Linked DNA regions of Homo sapiens: region 2 is linked to region 1. Evidence: fine-mapped expression QTL. Tissue or cell type: whole blood. Region 1 holds a variant in brackets; the other region holds the start of a gene. All regions are shown on one strand. Distances are from middle to middle.

Region 1 (8,106 bases):
TCAAAAAATTTTTTTAAAAAAATCTGTGTATGGACATAGCATTTTGTATTTCTATAAACAATTTTTTCATAATTACTATTTTGTTAAAATGAAATATTCTTTAGCTATTTATTGTGTACCTATCATGTATAATACAGCGTAGGAAGTCCTATACAGATGACCGTGATGAAGAAGGCTTGTACCAACCTTCAAGGAATGTACAATTTATTAAAGGGGTATGGATATAAGGTGTGAACATAAATAACTACAGTAATTCAAAGAGGTTTCTAGTAAGTGCAGTGAGAGATACAGATTTCAAAGGGGAGAAAGGTTTCTACTTACAAGAAGAGGCACAAGGGCATTCTAGTTGGAAGAAATAACATGAATAAAAGTTCAGAAAGGAAAATGCAGAAACTATACACATTCTCCGGAATGACAATGAATAACTAGGAGTAAAATTTGGATGAAGCACAAAGTTCATATAGCATAGTATTATATTAAGATCAAAGTTGGCCGGGCACGGTGACTCATGCCTGTAATCCCAGCACTTTGGGCAGCTGAGGTGGGTGGATCACCTGAGGTCAGGAGTTTAAGACCAACCTGGCCAACATGGCAAAACCCCATCTCTACTAAAAATGCAAAAAAAATTAGCCGGGCATGGTGGTGTGCGCCTGTAATCGCAGCTACTCAGAGGCTGAGGCAAGAGAATCACTTGAACCCGGGAGGTGGAGGTTACAGTGAGCCGAGATCGCGCCACTGCACTCCAGCCTGGGTGACAGAGTGGGACTCCATTCCAAAAATAAAAAAAGATCAGTCTGGGGAGATAGTTTTGAACTTAGATGCAGATTGTTGAATCCTTGAAAACAAGGCTGGGGAGTTTGGGCTTAATTTTCATTTGGAAGACATTGGGGAAGCCATTGATGTTTTGAGTAGAATCAAGGGTGCTGAAGGAAGATCACTTTGGAGGAGTATACAGGATGAGTTGTAGCTGCATGAGACACATAGGCTGGTTAAGGCTATTGTAGTGGTTAAGACTTACTTAATAATGCCCTGGGCTGAGGTGGTGGGGTGGTATCACATCATATTTAAGAGCATGGGCTTCAGAATCAAAGGGCTCCATTTCCAACCTGATCCTGGCCTCAGTAGATTACTGAAACTAATTCTGTCCTCTGTAAAAAGGTAATAATTGTAGCACCTATCTCTTTGGGTTGCCATAAGATTTAGATCAGGCAATAATGTCTAAAACCCTCAGACTGGCATAGAGTAAGTACTCGATAAATCGTTAACATCATAAAACGTTTGAAATATTGAATGTTTTACGTAAGAAGAAAGTCAGAGATAACTACAAATTTGAGCCTCAGTATTAGGGAAATGGCATCATAAAAGAGACTTTCCCCCTAAATTTCATGGGGAAAGCACATGATTCCAGTTTTATGAAGATAATTTTTGATGTGCAGGAGTTCTGGCTAGGTGTAAATCCACAACAGGTTGTTAAAACTAGAGAAGTAGCCAGGCACGGTGGCTTACGCCTATAATCCCAGCACTTTGGGAGGCCGAGGCGGGTGGATCACGAGGTCAGGAGATTGAGACCATCCTGGCTAACACAGTGAAACCCTGTCTACTAAAAAATACAAAAAAATTAGCCAGGCGTGGTGGCAGGCGCCTGTAGTCCCAGCTACTTGGAAGGCTGAGGCAGGAGAATGGCATGAACCCGGGAGGCGGAGCTTGCAGTGAGCCAAGATTGTGCCACTGCACTCCAGCCTGGACAACAGAGCCAGACTCCGTCTCAAAAAAAAAAAAAAAAAAAAAAACTAAAGAAGTCAATCCAAGGTATGCACTGGTTTCCTATAGAGGTGAAATATTTAAGTTTAAAGTATCTGATGAACTTCAAAAGTATATGTATGCTTTGTTAATAAACTGATAATTACAGGATTTTAAAACCTTCACATTTCTTTTCTAATTTTATCCTCATTTGACTAAGATACTAGATTGCAGAATCCACACACTGTACCTTTTTTGTTTACTGTTATATCTACAATACCTAGTAGTACAGTGTGGGTGAAGAAGGTTGTCAGCAAATGAATATTTATATATTTCAGTGAATGAATATTATATCCTTGCTTTGTAAGTAATAACTTGCACACATTACTTAAGTTGTTAAGGGAGACTTGGCTTTGAGTCTCTTGATGCCTAGCTTTCAGCAACAAGTTGAGAGGTGACAATTTATAAAGCACTAAATGTTAGCGTAATTTGAATATGGCGATGCCATTTTCTTTTCCTTTTTTTTTTTTTTTTTTAACATAGTCTCGCAGCTGGAGTGCAGTGGCACAATCTTGGCTCACTGCAACCTCCGCCTCCTGGGTTCAAGCAATTCTCCTGTCTCAGCCTCCCAAGTAGCTGAGAGTAGCTGGGGCTACAGACTCACGCCATGATGCCTGACTAATTTTTGTATTTTTAGTAGAGACGAGGTTTCACCATATTGGTCAGGCTGGTCTCGAACTCCTGACCCCAGGTGATCCATCCACCTCTGCCTCCCAAAGTGCTGGGATTACAGGCATGAGCCACCGTGCCTGGCCAGCGATGCCATTTTCTAGAGAACTATTTTAAATATATCAAGTTTATATAACAAAATTGGAAAATGACGGTTGTGGAGACTAAAATGCAAATCAAGTTAGTACATGGAAAAGTAATTATTGAGCTCATATGGATTTTCATAAATGATAAGAATATTTCTTACTGTCTTCTTTTTTTTCATAGGGGCATTACTCTAGTGTGCCTTAAATGTGATTTCCTAGCTGATTCTTCCGGCTTAGATCGTATGGCTAAACACTTAAGTCAACGTAAAACTCATACTTGCCAAGTTATAATAGAGAATGGTACGTATATATAATTGTGTTTCTTTGATTTTCTGATATTTATTTCAGTACTTTTGATCGGACACCATATGGACCCATGTATTAAATTGATAGTCTCACTCTTCATATATGCTATTGTAAATGTAAAACTCTTTTGATTTCAGTTTCCAAAAGTACCTCAACTTCTGAACCCACTACTGGGTAAGTTTAATTTTCCTTCAGTGCATTTTGCTTTGATGGACTTTAGCACTGTTGTATTTTTTAATGAATCATTAATATTAATATAAATGAAAAATATTAAAGTTTTTTTTTTTTTTTCTTAAAGCTGCTCATTGAAATAGATTCCTGCTCCATGGAGTTCATGCAACCTGGTGCAAGACAAGTTGGAAGTTCCTAAGTTCAAAGTTCTGAAGTATTTTCTCACACAAAGGGCAGTTAAACAGCCAAGTTTATGACACTAGCTCTCATTATTCAGCTCTTTTCAGCTTTCAGATGCCACTACATTGTTATTCCACCTTATCTTTGCGTCAGGTTAACATATCTTAACATATTTTTTTCTCCAGTTGGCTCTCTCCAAAAATGCCTTTTGTTTTTCTCTGCTATACTTGACTTGCCTTCAGAATATTACATTCCAGATAATATGACTGTTCATCTTTTTCTGTCTGTTTTGTCTGCTTTCTTAATTTCTTA[T/C]AAGTCTTACATGTTTAGGTCAGATAACCATTTTTTCTTCATTCCTTGTTCATTACTGTTCTATTTTTCATATTTTTCAAATGAAGAAGCAACACATAAGTTTCAAAAAATATCCAGGGTACTCCTGGACAGTGTCCCCTTTTGATGGACACAACTGATACCTGTTCTTTCTTTCCAAGAAATGTGAATTATTTGACTGTGAGACGTCCTCTAGTTTGTGGCCTTCAGAAATCAGATCTTGGGGAGAGTCCCTTCCTACCTGACTGACCTCCCATAAGGCTGATGCTGATTTGGCCAGAGATGACCTCAAGGCCCACCAAATAGAGCACAACTTCCCATTGGGAGCTTTGGCTTTTGATCTTAAGCTTATGGGTCGATTCTAACCAAGAAAAGTCCATGAGATCAGTGCTTCAACATCCAGGTTGACGTTTAACCATTTTGGCTGCTGCTCTTTAATTTTCCTCTAGCAGGCATGCAGTCCAAGGAATATCAAAATTCTGATTGTATGGGAACCAAGGTTACTTTCTTGTTCTTGGATAAAGAAAATTTCTACAATTACAGTTCCCAAAGACACAGTTGTTCATGTTATTTAAAGTTTTATCCAGTATTCTAGGAATTTTCAGCAATACTAATATTCTCATTTTTAAACATTTTTTACATTTTATTTTGTTTTATTTTGGTAGCTTGGTTTTATATTGTTTTTAGATCAGTGCTTCAACATCCAGGCTGACGTTTAGCCATTTTGGCTGCTGTTCTTTAATCTTCCTCTAGCAGGCATGCAGTCCAAGGAATATCAAAATTCTGGTTGTATTGGGAACCAAGGTTACTTTCTTGTTTTTGGAAAAACAAAATTTCTACAATTACAGTTCCCAAAGTCAGTTATTCATGTTTTCATTTAAAGTTTTATCCAATATTCTAGGAATTTTCAGCAATACTGATATTCACTTTATTTTTTTTCTTTTTTTAAGACAGAGTCTTGCTCTGTCACCCAGGCTGGAGTGCAGTGGCGCGATCTTGGCTCACTGCAAGCTCCGCCTCCTGGGTTCACGCCATTCTCCTGCCTCAGTCTCCCAAGTACCTGGGATGACAGGCGCCTGCCACCACGCCCGGCTAATTTTTAATTTTTTGTATTTTTAGTAGAGACAGGGTTTCACCATGTTAGCCAGGATGGTCTCGATCTCCTGACGTCGTGATCAGTCCGCCTCGTCCTCCCAAAGTGCTGGGATTACAGGTGTGAGCCACTGCACCCGACCGATACTCACATTTTTAAACTTTTTTTTTAATTTTATTTTGGTAGCTAGGTTTTATATTGTTCTTAAATTTATTTTACTCTATTTTATTTTTCCATCACTTCTTTGTCCCAGATTCATGAAATTTGCTGATGTCCATTTTATGTCTACTTTTGAACTCTTCTCTTTGTGTTTGTTTTGTTCTTATTACAAACTCCAAGACATTTCTTAGAATTGTCTACAGATTTCGTGTAGCTACTTATTGGTAGCTTCTTAATTTCATACTTGTCCAGACCATTAGACATTATTACATGCTCTGTCTTGGGCCTATCATTAACATTAGCTTAGGGATTCTGATTTCAAAGACATAAAGAATTGGCAAAACTCTTCTTACAGAACTTAAAACAAGTTTTAAAGTTACATTTCTATACATCTAATACATAATACCTTCTTAGCCATTAATGTAATTCCTCTGGATAAAGATAATATATTCAAAAAATATTGGGACCAAAAAATGCACTTGTTTCTTGCTCATATATATATAGATGTATATTTTTTTTAATTTCTTGTTTGTTTATTTTGGTTACATTGAATACAGATTTGCTGAACAGTTTTGATGTTATTTTTTTAATAAAATTTGTATTGTTAAAGTGCCTTGGAAATTTCTAATAAATAACTTCATATAAAAGCTATCATATAACTATAGGAGCATTGCTTTGCTCCTAGTTCCGTGGAGCCTGATTGCTTGACCTGCAGACTGAAAGCTTTATCTGCTGAGCACATCTTGTACTTTTTCCTCCAGCACAGTTAAAAGCAAACTATTTACACTTTACTAATTTCTTGAGCAGCTAGCAAAAGCCCCCTTTGTGATCTTAATAGTCATGAAGGTGGGCAGGCTCTGAAGTCATTTGACTCAATATGGGTGTTTTTTAACTCCAAAATTAGAACTGGACCAGGTACAATGTCTCATGCCAGTAATCCCCAATACTTTGAGAGGCTGAGGTGGGAGCCAGGAGTTTAAGACCAGCCTGGGCAACATAGCAACACTCTGTCCCTACCACAAAAAAAAAAAAAAAAAAAAGCTGGGTGTGGTGGCATATGCCTGTAGTCCTAGCTACTCAGGAGGCTGAGGCAGGAGGATCGCTTGAGCCCAGAAGTTCGAGGCTGCAGTGAACTATGATCATGCCACTGCATTCCAGCCTAAGCCACAAAGCAAGACCCTGCTTTAAAAAAAAAAAGAAAATTAAAACTGCTTTGATATACTTTGAAACACTGAAAGCCAGTGTCATTGGCCACTGCTATGTAGTATACTCCTTGCAATTCATAGTCAGGAGTTGAATCCATTAATTTTAATTTTCCAAACAGATTTCTGCTCTAAATGATTTTCCCAAATCTCCAAAAGGGGCTTATGTCATAGTCGTGGACTTGGTAATCCTTTTCTTTCCATACCTTTCTCTAGGATGTTTTGTCAAACACCATTTTTCTACCCATTTTTTTTTTACTTTTTTTATTATGGTAAAATGTATGAAATTTGCCATTTAAAATCATTTTCATTCAGCAGCATTAATGACACCCAACTTTAAGTTTTAAACTTTTTCCCAGAAATAACAACTTATTTGCATTTTTAGCATTGGTCTTCTTTTTATTTACAGATATTTTCTCTGTCTCTATCACAGTTCAAAAATACAGAAAACCACATTCTTGCTATAGCAGTATTTTAGGTAGAGGTACAGTTTTGTGTTCTTCCATAGGATTCTGTTTCTTATACTATGTATCAAGTTATTTTAAAGTTTAATGCTCTGGAAGTTATGTGTCCCATAGCATCACTTTTTTTAAACTTTGTTTAAATAAAACTATTTATGCAGTCAGTACTAAGCTTACTTGTTATAAGCAGTTGAGTTTTAATAGGTGTTAGTGAGTTTTAGCTTGACAATCTGATCCCTCTTCACCTTCAGACTGTTAGTTATTTCACCTGATTCAGAAATAGCCATGTCATGCATGTGTCCTTTTTTGTTTTCAACTGAATAAAAGGTATGGTTGGCTCAGTTTCAGTCCATCACTATTATTATTTTTTAAAAAAACACTAAATGACAAAGACTTAGATTCTTGCCCTTCTTTGTGTCACATTTTGGCAAAACACCTCTTTCAGTCTTTTTTCTTTTTTTTTTTTTTTTGAGACGGAGTCTCGCTCTGTCGCCTAGGCTGGAGTGCAATGGGGCGATCTCAGCTCACTGCAAGCTCTGCCTCCCGGGTTCACACCATTCTGCCTCAGCCTCCCGAGTAGCTGGGACTACAGGCGCCTGCCACCACGCCCAGCTAATTTTTTGTATTTTTAGTAGAGACTGGGTTTCACCAGGATGGTCTCGATCTCCTGACCTTGTGATCCGCCCGCGTCGGTCTCCCAAAGTGCTGGGATTACAGGCTTGAGCCACTGCGCCCAGCCTCTCAGTCTCATTTATTCGGTAAATATTACCTACTATGTGCCTGGCACTGTTGTAGTTGTTGGAAATACAAACTGAAATCTCTGCCTTCATGGGACTTAAATTTCTGTGTTGGGAGACAGACAATAGAAAGTAAATAACGTATAGTATGTTAATGGTGATGAAGTCTACGGAGGAAAATAAGGGAGATAGCAACATACAGGTTGGTGGTTGAGAGGTTGCCGTTTTAAATTTGATGGTCAAGTTGGGCCTCCTTGAGAAGATGGCATTTGAGTAAAGACCTGAAGGAGGTGAGGAAGTGAGCCACCTGGGTATCTGTCAGAGGAGCTTTCTAGAGAGGGGAAACAAGTGCAAAAGCCCTGAGGCAGAAATTGGAACCCTCATGTATTGCTGGTGGCAGTGTAAAATGGTCCAGCCACTATGAAAAACAGTTTGGCAGTTCCTCAAAAAGGTTAAGTGTAGAATTACCATATGACCCGGCAGTTTCACTCCAAAGAATCCAAAGCAGAGACTCAGATACTTGTATATGCATGTTCATAGCAGCACTATTCACAATAGCCAAAAGATAGAAATTGCCTAAATGTCACCCACAGATAAAGGGATAAATAAATTATGGTGTGTTGCCGGGCGCGGTGGTTCATCCCTGTAATTCCAGCACTTTGGGAGGCCGAGGCAGGTGGATCACCTGAGATCAGGAGTTTGAGACCAGCCTGTGCAACATGGCAAAACGCCGTCACTACTAAAAATACAAAAATTAGCTGGGTGTGGTGGTGGGTGCCTGAAGTCCCAGCTACTGGGGAGGCTGAGGCACAAGAATCACTTGAACCTGGGAGGCAGAGGTTGCAGTGAGCTGAGATCACACCACTGCACTCCAGCCTGGGTGACAAAGCAAGACTCTGTCTCAAAAGTTAT
Region 2 (8,106 bases), 94 kb after region 1:
GGTGGCTCACACCTGTAATCCCAGCACTTTGGGAAGCCAAGGCAGGCGCATCACCTGAGGTCAGGAGTTTGAGACCAGCCTGACCAACATGGAGAAACCCCATCTCTACTAAAAATACAAAAATTAGCCAGGTGTGGTGGCGTATGCCTATAATCCCAGTTACTCGGGAGGCTGAGGCAGGAGAATCGCTTGAACCCAGGAGGCAGAGGTTGCGGTGAGCCGAGATCACACCATTGCACTCCAGCCTGGGCAAGAAGAGTGAAATTCCGTCTCAAAAAAAAAAAAATCTAAACTAAAAGAGTATAACTGGATTGTATATAACACAAAGAAAGAGGCCGGGCGCAGTGGCTCACGCCTGTAATCCCAGCACTTTAGGAGGCCGAGGCGGGTGGATGACGAGGTCAGGAGATCGAGACCATCCTGACTAACACAGTGAACCCCTGCCTCTACTAAAAAATACAAAAAATTAGCCGGGCATGGTGGCGGGTTCCTGTAGTCCCAGCTACTCAGGAGGCTGAGGCAGGAGAATGGCATGAACCCGGGAGGTGGAGCTTGCAGTGAGCCGAGATCGCGCCACTGCACTCCAGTCTGGGAGAAAGAGCGAGACTCCATCTCAAAAAAAAAAAAAAAAAAAAAGAAGGAAAAAAAAAAAAGAAAAAGAAAACACACAAAGAAAGGAGAAATGCTTGAGGTGACAGATACCCCATTTACCCTGATGTGATTATTACACATTGCATGCCTGTATCAAAACATCTCATGTAACCCATAAATACACACACCTACAATGTACCCATAAAAATAAAAAACAAAAATAAAAAAATTAATTTATTTAATTTATTTATTTTTTTGAGATGGAGTCTCACTGTGTCATCCAGGCTGGAGTGCAGTGGCACGATCTCGGCTCACTGCAACCTCTGCCTCCCAGGTTCAAGTGACTCTCCTGCCTCAGCCTCCCGAGTAGCTGGAACTACAGGCATGCACCACCACACCGGCTAATTTTTGTATTTTTAGTAGAGATGGGGTTTCACCATGTTGGCCAGGCTGGTCTTGAACTCCTGACCTCAAGTGATCCACCCCGCTCGGCATCCCAAAGTGCTGGGATTACAGGCATGAGTCACCACACCCAGCCTAGTTTTTGTTTTTGTTCTGTTTTAAAGAAGAAAAGTGAGGCTCAGAGAGTTTAAGTGACTTGCCTGAAGTCACACAGCTGGTAAATAGTGAGCTGGAATAGGAACCCAGGTCTGTCTGAGGTTACAGACCACTGAGCTCTTAGCAAAATGGGAAAGTGTGTGTGTGTGCACGCGTGTGCAGACGTGTCTGTCCATTCGTGAATTTCAAAGTCAAGGTAAAGAGGGCTTAGGGACATCCGGAACCTACCCCAAATTTGAGAGGGGACCTCGTGGATGAGAGGCCAGCAGAGAACTGTGTGTCTCCAGGATCTGGAATCCCCTGGGAAAAGCATGCCCGCTTGGAAAAGACAAAGTGCTTGTTTTGGGGACTTGATTCTGAGTATCCAGGAGGTCTCAGGGGCCGGCGCCCCAGTCCAGCCACAGGATCTTTCCTTGGGAACTTGTAATCTGCAGCTGCCTTTGTGGCCATCATCCACCACCACTCCTGTCCCCCAGTCCTGCGCCTGAGATGATCCTTTCCCAAGGCAGGAGAAGCAGGCCGATGCTGGAGGCTGAGTAGGTCCTTCAACCTCAAGCCCTTTAGAAGGCCCCATCCCCTGGGGCTCCTTCAGTCTTGATGCTTTCTGCCAAGGCTTAGGCCTTGCTGCCCCCACCCCCAAAAAGGCCACGTGGAACTATACAGAGTAACAATTCCCAGCGCACTCTCTCCAGAGCCTCCTATCAGCAGACCCACGTAGGCGGCGGTATTGATGTTGAGGCAGGTCAGAGAGGGCAAAGGGGAGATAGAAGGGGAGCGTGCCTGAGTGGCTTTCAAGTGGGCGCGTGGAGCAGAGCAGCCTGGCTTTGGACAGGGGAAGAAAGGTAGGCATGGGCTTTCTTCCAGCACCCGAACTCTGGCTCTCTTTGCACTTGCTGGGCCAGCCCCTCTCCCCCTAGCCCTTCCCCTGACTCATATCTTGCCAGCGTCCCCCACCCCAACTTCCCGCAGGAGTCCTAGACTCGACTTCCCTAAGAAGTCGCCGAAACTCTCCAGTCACCCCAGGTGTTACGCCCAGGATTCTGCGGAGTCGGGCATATGGTTCCAAAATTGTATCCTCTGGGCATCTCGCGGCCTCACCCGCCGCACGGCCCGCCCTCCCGCTGGGGCCTGCACACCCCAGGAGCTCAATAATGTGGAGCGCAGGGCTTGGCCCAAAGGCGTCAAGCAAGTCTCCACTTGCACGGGCCGAGGGGGCTGGACGAAACCTTCCCGAGTCCGCGGGGAAGGGATTTCTCTGCGGGGCGTTGTATGGGGGCTTCGCACCGGGAAGGGCGCGGAACGAGCAGAGAGCTCGGAGTCTCGCTGGCTAGAAGCAGAGTGGGGAGCGCCCGCCCGGGCCGCGGCGCACGACGCGGGCTCTGCGGGCGCCCTGCCTCGTGGTCCCCCGGGCGCGAGCGAGCCGCGAGGGGAATGAGAGGCCGCGCGGGCCCCTGGCACGGCTCCCCATGCCGTGCTGGCGACCGCGGCGGGCGGGCCGGGGCGGACGGGCGCTGTTTCCACCGAGATGCCTCGTCCCTCCCTCGTTCCCTCCCCCACCCCGCCCGCCCGCAGTCCCTCCCGTCGGTCCCTCCCTCCGGCTCTTCCCTCCCTCCCGCCCTGCCTCCTTCGCGCCCGCCCCATCCGCCGCCTGCGGGGACGTGTGTGTCTCTACTGCATTTCCCCTTTCGCTCGCTCGTTTCGGTGCATGTCTGCGCCGGTTCGCGCCCCCTCCCCGGGCGCCCCTGCCGCCCCGTGTCTTGGCCCGGCCCTCCCCGGCGTCCGCCCCGCTCCCCGCGCGCTCCACCCCGCCCCCCGCCCCGTTTTATCAGGGGCGCCGCCGTCTCACCTGGTATTTGCATCTCTCCCTCCAACTTGCCATTGGCGGCGCGAAGTGTGGGAGAGCCCTGCGCCTCGCCCGCCCGGACCAGCCTGCCCCGGCGCCGAGGTGAGTCACGGGCGCGGGGTGGCGGGGGCAGGCGGGCGGGGAAGAAGGGCGGGCGGGGAGGAGGGCGGGGGACGGCGGCCCCGGCGGCCGCGGGGACCGACCGGGCGCCGCGCTCAACTTCCACTTCTCCTTTCGCCGGCGCCGAGTTCCTGGCGCCGCTCGCCCGGCCCGGCTTCCGAGGGGAGAGGACGGGCTGGCGGGGCTGGGGACCCGCGTCTCGGCCCCCGGAGCGGGGACCACGGAGACAGACCCCGGCCCGGCGACCGAGCTGGGCCCGTGAGCCACTCGGCCTCAGGTACGTCGATGGCGCCGGTTCTTCGAGCCTTGGGGGACGTGGAAAAGTTTGCTTGAGGGCGGAATCGAGAGCGCCGGGGCCCCGGCGTGGGGCTGGGGGCCCAGGGAAGGGCGGGAGAGTCGCGGAGTGTCGCGAGCCGCCCTGGAGTCGCCCCGCCGCGCGTGTGATGGAGAACCCGGGCTCCCGATCCCGGGATGGAAGTGGAATGGATTCCCCGAGTCGGGGAGTCGGGGTAGGGGCCCCTGTTTTCCCTCGCCCCCGGCAGCCTGGGTTCCGTGACGGGGCCGATCATGACAGCGGGCCCCCAGAAGCTGGGCGCCCGAGGGCAGAGGAGGTGGGGCGGACCGCGGCGGAGCTGCTAGATGGATCCGACTGCCCCCGGGGCTTCTGGGGCCAGGGCTTTAGGGTCACACGCACACACGCGCACGCAGACCTATGATGTGGAGAACTGGATCGCCAAAATAGAGACCTCTTGGCAGGGGCCGGAGTTTCCGTGTGAGCCAGCCGCCAGCCTTCCCGCTCCCGCGTTCCCGCTCTCCCCGACTCTCCCGCCTCCGGGTTCCCTCCTGGGCCGCCGCCTAGGGGATTCAGCAGCCGCACCGTGCGGGGTCCCCTCACGCCAGCGCCTTGCTTTGGAGGCTTGAGGGACTGCTGAGGCGGTGACCGCTTTATGAATTCCTGGCTCCTCCACCGCACCCTAACCCTGACTCCCTTTTCTCACCACCGTATGCCTGCACATCACCTTCCTGACCAGAGTCACCTCCTGACCCCTTGGCACCTCGGCTCAGCGAGGTCCTCCTGGGCCGCCCCCGCCCCGCACCATACCCCAGCTGAGGGATTTGATGGCCATTTGATTCCTGCCCCTCATCCCTCGGCCTGTGATAGAGGCCTGTCTGGTCCTGCAGCCTCTTCTGGTTAATGTTTGACAGTTCATTGTGGCTAATTATTTTAATTAGCTCTTAAAGTGGGAAAGAACAGTTAACCTTGGACTTCTCGATTTTGGCCTGGTGGGGCCTCAAATGGGAGGAGTGCTGGGGAGGTGGGGAGGTAGGAGCGGAAGTGAGGTCACCACCCCAGGGCCTGAACCACCACTGCTCAGCCCCAACAGCTGGTGGGCACGCCCATTGGGGACTCACCCCCTGCCAGCTGACCCCTGGCCCGAGTGCCAGGTTGGAGGTGGGTGAAGGGAACAGTTCTAGCTCTTCCCTTTGGGGAGACTTTGGCACTGAAAATGCCCGGGGAACACATATGCCCAGCAAGAATGCCAGTCCTTCCTTGCAGTTAGTTACACTGGGTTTTCCTGGTTATAAAGTGCTTTCTCAACCATTAATTCAGATTCAGTGCATCCAGTACAGGAGCAGCGTAGGGGGAGCTCTCTGGAGTTCAGTGAAGATTATCAGGGAGGACTTCCTATCCCAGCCAGCTGGTGTGAGGAAGAGGCTACCTTGCATCTGGTTGTTTTTGGGGCTGGATTCAGAGCCTGGGATCTCTTGTTGGGGGCAGGGGTGGGGGGGACCATGAAGCAGGCTCCATGCTACCACCCTCACCCAGCCTCTTGCTGTGAGCCGAAGGAGTGGCTTGTTTGCAACTATGTCTGGCATTCCTCCCTGTGCTGCACTGTTTGCTCGGTGGTTGCTCAGGAACTGGCGCCCACCCCTGGACAACCTAGGGGCCCAAAATTCACTCTCCCTCACCTAGTGCTAAGTGGTGACACAGTGGCTTCTGTCTTCTCTGGCATATATTGGGATCTAAAATAGAGGGTGCTGTGGTCTGTCTCTAGGGGCCTGAGTGATAGCATGTCCAAAATGCCCCTCATCTTGCAAAAATCAGGCCCTGTGCCGCACAGACCCAGCTAGACACAGGCTGAGGAGTTTGCTTTCCTGGGGAAACCTCTGCTCTTCTGCTCTTAAGCTTGGCCTTCTTCCTTTCCACATCCCCTACCCCCGCAATGTAATTTTACATCCAGTTTTTGTTTTTGCGTTTAGAGTGTTGTTTTTTTTTTGGTTTTTGTTTTTTAATTCAGGGTCTCACTTTGTCACCCAGGCTGGAGTGCAGTGGCACAGTCACAGCTCACTGTAATCTTGAACTCCTTACCTCCAGTTCTTTTTTTTTTTTTGAGATGGAGTTTCACTCTTGTTGCCCAGGCTGGAGTGCAATGGCACGATCTTGGCTCGCCGCAACCTCCGCCTCCCAGGTTCAAGTGATTCTCCTGCCTCAGCCTCCCGAGTAGCTGGGATTACAGGCATGTACCACCACGCCCGGCTAATTTTGTATTTTTGGTAGAGACGGGGTTTCTCCGTGTTGGTCAGGCTGGCCTCGAACTCCTGACCTCAGGTGATCCACCCGCCTCCGCCTCCCAAAGTGCTGGATTATAGGCGTGAGCCACTGTGCCCAGCTACCTCCAGTTCTTAAAGCCTGGCTGTCTAGGTTGAAATCCCAGCATTGTTATTTACTAGCTATGTGATCCCAGTCAATTGTATGCCCCAGTTTCCTTATCTGTCACATGAGACCACTTTATAACACTTTGGTGAGGATCAAATACATGAATGAATACATATAAGATGCTTATTAGAACAGCACATGGCACACAGTAAGTGCTAGCTGCCCTTACGATATTGCCTAATGCAGCGCCTAAAACTCAGATTCAATTCAGCAAACACTTGCTCAGAGCCGGTCCTAGTACCAGACCCCAATGAAGTGGCAGTGAGGAAAACATGGATGTGAGGAAGACACCACCTGCCTTCCGGGATTGTGTGTACCTTTTCGTGTGGGCTGGAGTCAGAGCAGGTGTACAGGAAGGGGTCAGGGAGAGGGGATATGTCATCTATATAAATAATTGTAATTGGAAGCCAGGATCAAATTCCTGAGCCAGTGTGGGGGATCAAGCACCCTAGACTTGGGGGCTTCTCTTTGCCTGAAGACCCTGGCCAGATTCTGGTCTAGATGCACCTCCCACCCTCCCCACACACAGAGTCTTGCCCTAGGATTTGGGTGAATGAGAGGGAAAGGAACACTGGTTTTCTTTTCTTTTCTTTTCTTTTCTTTTTGAGATGGAGTCTTGCTCTGTCGCCCAGGCTGGAGTGCAGTGGCCCAATCTCGGTTCACTGCAAGCTCTGCCTCCCAGGCCCAAGCATTTCTCCCTGCCTTAGCCTTCTGAATAGCTAGGATTACAGGTGCCCACAACCTTCCCCAGCTAATTTTTGTATATTTTAGTAGAGACGGGGTTTCACCATGTTGGCCAGGCTGGTCTTGAACTATTGACCTCAGGTGATCCGCCCGTCTTGGCCTCCCAAAGTGCTGTGATTACAGGCGTGAGCCATTGCTCCTGGCTGGGACACTGGTTTCTGCATGAGCTACAGGTGGCAATCTTGCAGGATGTCATTTGTTGGGTTCCAGGGCAGGATGGCATTTCTTAGGGACACCCCCCAAACATCCCTATAGCCCCCTGCAGTGGAAGGGGTCATGTCTGCCATGCCCCCTGTCTCCCCAGGATCTCCCACCGAGCTGGGAAAGGCCCTGGGCAGCCTTCTGTCCTCAGGGTAGGGCCTGACCCCAACCCGGGCTTGGCATCTCTCCTGGATTTCTAAGCTGCAAAGAGGTTTCTGGCTTCTCTTCCAATTTATTCTTTTTGTGGTTCTCAGACTGAAAACTACTTCTGCAGGGGAGAAAGGAAACTCCTGCAAGGCACCCAGAATCCCATAGGCGCTTTCCTAGGGGTCAGGGGCTTTTCTCATCAACACCAACCTGCCTGCAAATCTCTGGCCGCTGAGCCTCGTGTGTCCTGTAATAGCAGCCACACTGCTAATGCCCTGTAGCTCGGGCCCCAGTGCTGGTTGCCAAGAAACTGCTGGTCGGGGTGCTTATGAGGGTTCTGACCTCATAGGGGCTGCTGAGTTTCAATTCAACAGACATTTATTAATACCTACTGTGTGCCCAACCGATGCTAGGCGCCGTGGGGGAGATGAGAGAAGGAGGCGCTGGGGAAGAGATGACTAAGACACTGAAACAATCAGAGGCGAGGACAAGCAGCCGGGCCAGTGGCTGGTCAGGTGCTAATTGTGCTTGTTGGAGCAGAGGCCAGCACGGCTGGGACTGGAGGTCAGCAGCAGCTGGAGGAGGGAGGGAAGGCTTTGTGAGGGATGCGGGCCTAGGCTAGACCTTGAAGGGGGGAGAGGGGGAAGCAAGGGGGAGATTTGGCTCAGCAGAAAAGGAAGAAAAGACGCCTTTCTCTCTATTCCCTGGCCACGAACTGACCTTCGAAGCCTGGATGATTGTTTGGCAAATGTGTGTCACATAAAAGACCAGGTCAGCTAGTGTGGGTGGCTCAGTGCAAACCCCTGTCTCCACTCCGGGAGATATAAACTGGCTGGCCAGCCTGCCACCCAAGCTGAGGGGATTTCGTTTGAAACCCCTCCCTTACCAGACACACACACACACACACACACACACACACACACACACACACACACAGGCCCCTGGGGAGTGGGAGAGATGGCAGGGGAGACGTAGGGCACTTAAATGACAGGAAAACTGACATGCCACTTGTGCTCATGGCAGTCTCAGGCTGGCTGGATCCCACCTTTTCCCCAGGGTTCTGGGATTTCTCTGGAAGCCCAGAGCTTCAGGTGGAGGAAAGAGATTTTCATAATTGTTCCCCACTCCACCATCTGGGAAATGAAGAATGTAGAGTTTCATGTGTTTCTGCCCAGACCGCTAA

Evidence for each region. PIP is the estimated chance that this variant, and not a neighbour inherited with it, causes the effect.
Region 2: it holds the start of ELF4, and the variant in region 1 is fine-mapped to the expression of ELF4 in whole blood (TOPMed, PIP 0.99).

The regions. Positions count from the first base shown.
Region 1 is chrX:130,200,046-130,208,151 of GRCh38, reverse strand. It overlaps ZNF280C (zinc finger protein 280C), which reads left to right. Exons shown (of 19, transcript NM_017666.5): 17 at 2,737-2,855; 18 at 2,999-3,035; 19 at 3,160-5,445. The coding sequence ends at 3,175. Among named protein-coding and RNA genes, the nearest start is that of RAB33A, 32 kb to the right of the region's middle. The variant T/C (reference allele first, on the strand shown) is at 3,525.
Region 2 is chrX:130,105,608-130,113,713 of GRCh38, reverse strand. It overlaps ELF4 (E74 like ETS transcription factor 4), which reads left to right and starts at 3,217. Exons shown (of 9, transcript NM_001421.4): 1 at 3,217-3,389. It also overlaps a transcript of RAB33A not described here. RefSeq lists silencers at 2,486-2,605, 2,676-2,725, 2,736-2,785, 3,036-3,185, 3,266-3,335.